Linked DNA regions of Homo sapiens: region 1 is linked to region 2. Evidence: fine-mapped expression QTL. Tissue or cell type: gastroesophageal junction. Region 2 holds a variant in brackets; the other region holds the start of a gene. All regions are shown on one strand. Distances are from middle to middle.

Region 1 (2,911 bases), 8.2 kb before region 2:
TTTTTGCTTCTCCTTCAACATTTATAACCAATCAGTAAGTCTTTGAGTTTTCTTTCACCATAACTTAAAAATCCATCACTTTCCTTCATTCCCACTGCTACCAATTTTGTGTGGGCCTTTATTTCTTGTCTGATCTACGGTCTCCTAACTGGCCTTCTTGTTGCCCATTTACGCCACCACACACATCACTATTAGAATCATCAAGTATTGTCTCATGCCACAAATGGAAAAAAAATTTTTTTCAGTGGCTACTGTGTAACTGCTGATGGGTGTCTTCCCTTACATGCCTTGTCTTTCCCTGGTTTGCCAACTTTGCTCCTACCAATCTATCTGCCTGGAGCATGCTTAGTCTCCAAAGAAAATATGCTTATTACTCACACTCACTTCCTTGAAGCTCCTAGATCATCACCCCAACTAGAAATGATCACTTACTGTGAACTCTTCGGGTACACTAGCTCTATCACTCATTTACCACCTGTGTGTGATAATTTGTGCTTCATACAGCTCCTACTGGAGTGGTAAGATCCCTAATGGCAAAGATGTCTTAACCATCTTTCCGTCCCTAGGGATGCCTGGCACTAATGGTGTCTCCCTTGCCTGTATGCGGGGTTGGGGGGTGATTTCCATTAACTCTCTGGCCAGGTTCCAAACAGCTCTTACTACTCCCTGGATTCATTCTGGACCTGCTGGGGAAGCGCCAAGGACAATACCAGGGGCCAAGAACAAGATCAAAGGGGCACGGCAAGGAAGAAATGTGCATCCAATGAGTGCTAAACTGTAGATGCGATAAAGGCGTCAGGCAAGCACTGACCTGCTCCAGCAGATAGATGAGCTGGTCTCGAGCCAGCCTCTTCAGCATGGAGAAGTCAGGCAGCTCAGGGGCGTCCGGCCGATGGGGAAAAGCCATGGCAGCGGTCACCTGCGCCGCGGGGTGGAAGGACGCCCTTCGTTCTGAGAAGGCCGGCCGCAGCCCAGGGAAGCGCAAGGGGGGCTATCCTTCAGGCCTGGGCACCGACTTCCAGAGACCCCAGATGGGCCCTCGCTCCTCAGCAGCACTCCAGGAATGAATGGCCACCTCCAGGCAAGAGAGCTACTACCTCGGAGCAGCCTTGTCTCAGACCTGCAGCCACCGTGTCTCGACCCTCCCTCCCTGATCCACTCTGCCCGTCAGCAGGATTCCGGTCTACACCCCGCAGAGACTCCGCAGCGTACGAGGAGAACCCCGCCTTCTACCAGAAAAAGAAGCGACTTCCTAGATCTCCCGGAAGTCCCTTTCGCTCCCAGCGCTTCGCGTACCAGGAAGGGGACGGCGTCCTGAAAGGGACATTTGAAAAACGGAGGCAACGCGTCTATTAATTAGGTGGCGGCGCCTGGGGTCGCAGCACTCCAGAGGCTGAGGTGGGAGAATCGCTCGAGTCAGGGAGGCGGAGGTTGCAGTGAACTGCGATCGCGCTACTGCACCCCAGCCTGGGCAACAAAGCTAGACCTTGCCTCAAAAAAAAAAAAAAAAAAAAAAAAAAAGACATAATGAATGCATCAGGCTAGCTAACAATACCTCAACTCTGATCAATCATACCATCATATCATTTCCTGGTGAGATGCATAGGAAATACAGAGCATCACCTATTGCCAAAAATTGAACCTAATCAAGCCTCAAGATCTAACTACCAGTTTATAGGCTATATAGAGATTAGCAGGAATATGTTAAGACACCAAAGGTATGAAATCAACCATATCCAAAATGTAGGAAATTATATGGGACAAATGATCTGTCGTCTTCAAAAAAATGGCAAAGTGGGAAATGTGGGAGGGGAAAACACTTCAGAATAAAAGAGATTTAAGAGATGTATCAACAAAATGTTTCAATGTGTGGATCTTTTTTGGATAATAATTCAAAGATAACTGATTTAAGGAATTACTAAAACTTTTCGGGTATTGTATTTCTTTTCTTCTCTTTTTTTTCCTGACAGAGTCTCGCCCTTTTGCCTAGTGGAGGAGCTCGGCTCACTGCAAGCTCCGCGCCACAACCCCCCTGCCGCCCCAGGTTCAAGAGATTCTCCTGCCTCAGTCTCCCGAGTAGACTGGGATTACAGGCGAGTGCCACCATGCCCGGCTAATTTTTGTATTTTTGGTAGAGACGGGGTTTCATTATGTTGGCCAGGCTGATCTCGAACTCCTGACCTCAAGTGATCCGCCTGCCTTGGCCTCCCAAAGTGCTGGGATTACAGGCGTGAGCCACAACGTTGGGCCAGGTATTGTATTTCTATGTTATTATTATTTTTTGTATTTCTATGTCATACAGGCTTGTATTTCTGTTAAAAACAAGTCCTTATCTCTTTGAGATACATACTGAAGTTTTTACAGGTGAAATAATTTGGCCAGGAGTAATGGTTCATGTCTCTAATTCCCACCACTTTGGGAGGTCCAGGTCGGGGTCGGGGGGTTGCTTGAGGCCAGGAGTTTGAGATAAGATTGGTCAACTACAACACATAAAAAATAGCCAGGCATGGTGGTGGGCACCTTTAATCTCGATACTTGGGAGGCTGAGGCAGGAGGATCACTTGAGCCCAGGAGTTTGAGGCTGCAGTGCGCTACGATCATGCTACAGCACCCCAGCCTGGGCAACAGAGTGAGACACCGTTTGTTTTTTCTTTTCTTTTTTTTTTTTTGAGACAAGGTCTGGCTTTATCTATCACCCAGGCTGGAGTGCAGTGATATGTTCTGTCTCTTTTTTTTTTGAGATGGAGTTTCGCTCTTGTTGCTCAGGCTGGAGTGCAATGGCACGATCTCAGCTCACTGCAACCTCCACCTCCCAGGTTCAAGCGTTTCTCCTGCTGCAGCCTCCTGAGTAGCTGGGATTACAGGCATGTGCCACGCACCCAGCTAATTTTGTATTTTTAGTAGAGACAGA
Region 2 (2,911 bases):
GGATTGCTCAAGCCCAGCAGTTTGAAACCAGCCTGGGCAACATGGCAAGACACCATCTCTGCAAAAAATACAAAACATCAGCCAGGCATGGTGGTGCGCACCTATGATCCCAGCTACTGAAGAGGCTGAGGTGGGAGGATCCCTTGAACCCAGGAAGTTGAGGCTGCAGTGAGTCATGTTCACACCACTGCAGTCCAGCCTGGGTCACAGAGCGAGACGCTGTCTCAAACAATAAATAATCAACCCGATTGTGGCCGATGAAAAATTTGGCAGTTTGATTTGGAGCTCATGGAAACTTTCTCAAGTTCATGATTAATCTTTTCCCATATTTTGAAGTTCTAGGACAAGGAGACTGGCTTTCACAGAGGTTCGGGTTGGGTTCAGTTTTCTTCAGAAGAACTTCAGAATGCACTACAACAGGAAAATCATATTCTAGATGGAGTCAAGTCAATCTGTTTGTATACCAGATACATCTATGATATACATGCAGCTACTATCTGATTATGTATCAATTAAATAGATCATAAATGTGGAACGATGGGGACTTTGAGAGATTTGTAACTGAAGCTGCCTTCATGCTTGTTAGAATGCTGGGGTGGAAGAGTTCCCAGTTTTAAAGGAGAAGTACAAGAAGACCTGTAATTGTTAGCAAGATATACAGAACACAGTGCACACAGCAGCGCACTTCTCAAGTCAGGTAAGCTGGGGCTGAAATCTTGCCTTTCCTGCTTATTATGCGATCTTGGGCCAGATTGATTTATATTTTATTTTTTAATTTATTTGTTTTCGTTGAGACTGGGCCTTTCTATGCTGCAGGTTAGTTTTGAACTCCTAGCCTCAAGCTGTCCTCTTGCCTCAGCCTCCCACAGTGCTGGGGTTATAGGACTGAGCCACTGTGACTTGCCCAATTTACAATTTTTAATGGAGGGTGAGGGAGTCATAGGAACAACAAAGATGGTAAAGGGAGTTTGAGGAGAAAACAAATAAAAGAACAAGGTGCACATAAAAACTGCCTGAGTTCTTTTCACTGACTCCCTCATAAAAAGGCGATTTTCAGATCGAATGTTTTTGCAGACATTGCCTTTCCTTCCTTACAGTGCTTATTTTTTTCCAGCTCCAGGTTCAAGCTCAAAGGCCTAAAGTTTTGCAAACATCTGGTGAAGAGGAAGATTTTTGAGACTCTCCCAGCCTATTACATAAAGGAAACATAACCGAGAATTTTGTCTAAAGGTTTTCATTTGAAACAAAGCAAGAGCTTCTTTTCCCCACTCCGAATTAAAACACAGCGCAACAGGGGCCACATTTATTTGGCAGGACAGTACCAATATGTGAACATCCTCCTCCTCACTGCCGTTGGGGTGACTTGACTCATAAGCAGCTGTTCTTACACAAAATATTAACCCGAACTGCTAGTGTCACACAGAAGGAAGTGGTCTTGATTGTGTATGTGGGCCAGCATGTTCTACAAATGCTGAAAGGTGGGAGAAGCACAAATACAACCCACTCTTTAAAAAAACTAAATAATTCAAAGTAAAATTTTCTATCCCCGCCCCCTCCCCACCCTTGCCTTCTCCAATAATAAAAAGTAGAATCCAGATTTGGTTTGTATCCTGACCATTCACAAAGTGTC[G/A]TGCCACAGCACTTGCATCATTAGGGTTATGGATGATCACAGTTCATTTGCTTTGAAGAGACGTGTGTCTGCTCCTTCCTCCTCTTCTTGCCTTCATGCTCATGTTCTCTGGGGCAGCTGCTGAGGGTCTTTGAGGGCCACCATGCTGTCTGGCTTCTTCCAAAAATGTGTCCAAATCAAAAGAATCTTCCTCAAACTGAACTGGTCCTTCTCAGCCTCTCGGCTTCTCTGTCTATGGTCTGAAAAACTCCTTGTTGGGAACAAATCTAGGGAACAAGAGAAAAGACTATGAACTACTTTATTTTCACTGGTGTAAACACTGAAACAGAGTTGTATGGCTTGATACCTGTTGGTCTTTCTTCTGGCTTCTAGGTCATGACCATACATATCCTTGTCCAGGTTTTTACCAGACCTATAAATACTCTGGGCCATATCTTTATTTACCACCTCTCCAGGCTTGATCGTAAACATTATAAATTTTGTCTTCTCCACCTGCAAATCCACTGTCCATACCCTGTAGAAAAGTGGATGACATTAAATGAAAATATAAACACCAATTATTAAAAGATGAATCTGACAACATTCATGTGAAGAGTAAACTCTTGCTAATTTGTAGCTCAAATTTTCCACAGCCTGAACTGCAAATTGTAAAAAAGTCTTCATTGGACTGGGTGTGGTGATTTAGGCCTGTAATCCCAGCACTTTGGGAGGCCGAAGAGGGCAGATCACTTGAGGTCAGGAGTTCAAGACCAGCCTGGCCAACATGGAGAAAGCCCGGTGGGTCTCCCCACACGCGGAATCGCCCCCGGTCCTTGGGGTTGGGGCTGCCGCCTCTGGCTCCTTCTGGGCCAAGGCCACTGGGTGAGCCAGGTGCTGGCAACACACCCTTTGCTCCTTCAGCTGCCCATGTAGCTGTGCCTGCTGCTCCTCCTCGGCACTGACTAAAGCTGAGTTTAAAAAGGCCACCTGCAGGCAAGACATATGCATTCTTGTAGGGGGATACACAGGACAAACGCGGCAGGGAGGGGGAGAGGAGGTCTTCCTTTGGGGCCTCAGAGGGTGCACCTGTGGGTCACAGGTGAAATGATGTCTGATCACTGGCTCCCAGGGAAGGCACGAGGGTCCAGAGAAATCAGAGGGCAGGAAACAAAGAGCAAAAGGGGGTCTGGGAGGGACCACAGAGGGAGGCAGCAAAGGTGGGGCAGTGGGAGTCAGGCTCACCATGGCCTCCCGGCTCTTCAGGTCCTCCAAGATGCTCGGCATGGGCTGAGGCGCCTCCTC

Alleles and levels. Alleles are on the strand shown, and positions count from the first base shown. SD is a standard deviation of normalised expression in the study named.
In carriers of allele G in region 2, the expression in gastroesophageal junction of the gene that starts at base 1,280 in region 1 tends to be higher than with A alone (moderate effect, 0.40 SD a copy in GTEx).

What was found.
Region 1: VPS33B-DT starts here. The variant in region 2 is fine-mapped to the expression of VPS33B-DT in gastroesophageal junction (GTEx, PIP 0.98).

Annotation. Positions count from the first base shown.
Region 1 is chr15:91,021,343-91,024,253 of GRCh38, forward strand. VPS33B-DT (VPS33B divergent transcript) reads left to right here and starts at 1,280. Exons shown (of 4, transcript NR_110104.1): 1 at 1,280-1,398; 2 at 1,971-2,629. It overlaps VPS33B (VPS33B late endosome and lysosome associated), which reads right to left and starts at 1,252. Exons shown (of 23, transcript NM_018668.5): 1 at 812-1,252. The coding sequence starts at 907. RefSeq lists enhancers at 336-952, 807-1,216.
Region 2 is chr15:91,029,545-91,032,455 of GRCh38, forward strand. It overlaps VPS33B-DT (VPS33B divergent transcript), which reads left to right. Exons shown (of 4, transcript NR_110104.1): 3 at 337-697; 4 at 1,115-1,595. It also overlaps the pseudogene LOC390638. Among named protein-coding and RNA genes, the nearest start is that of VPS33B-DT, 8.4 kb to the left of the region's middle. The variant G/A (reference allele first, on the strand shown) is at 1,631.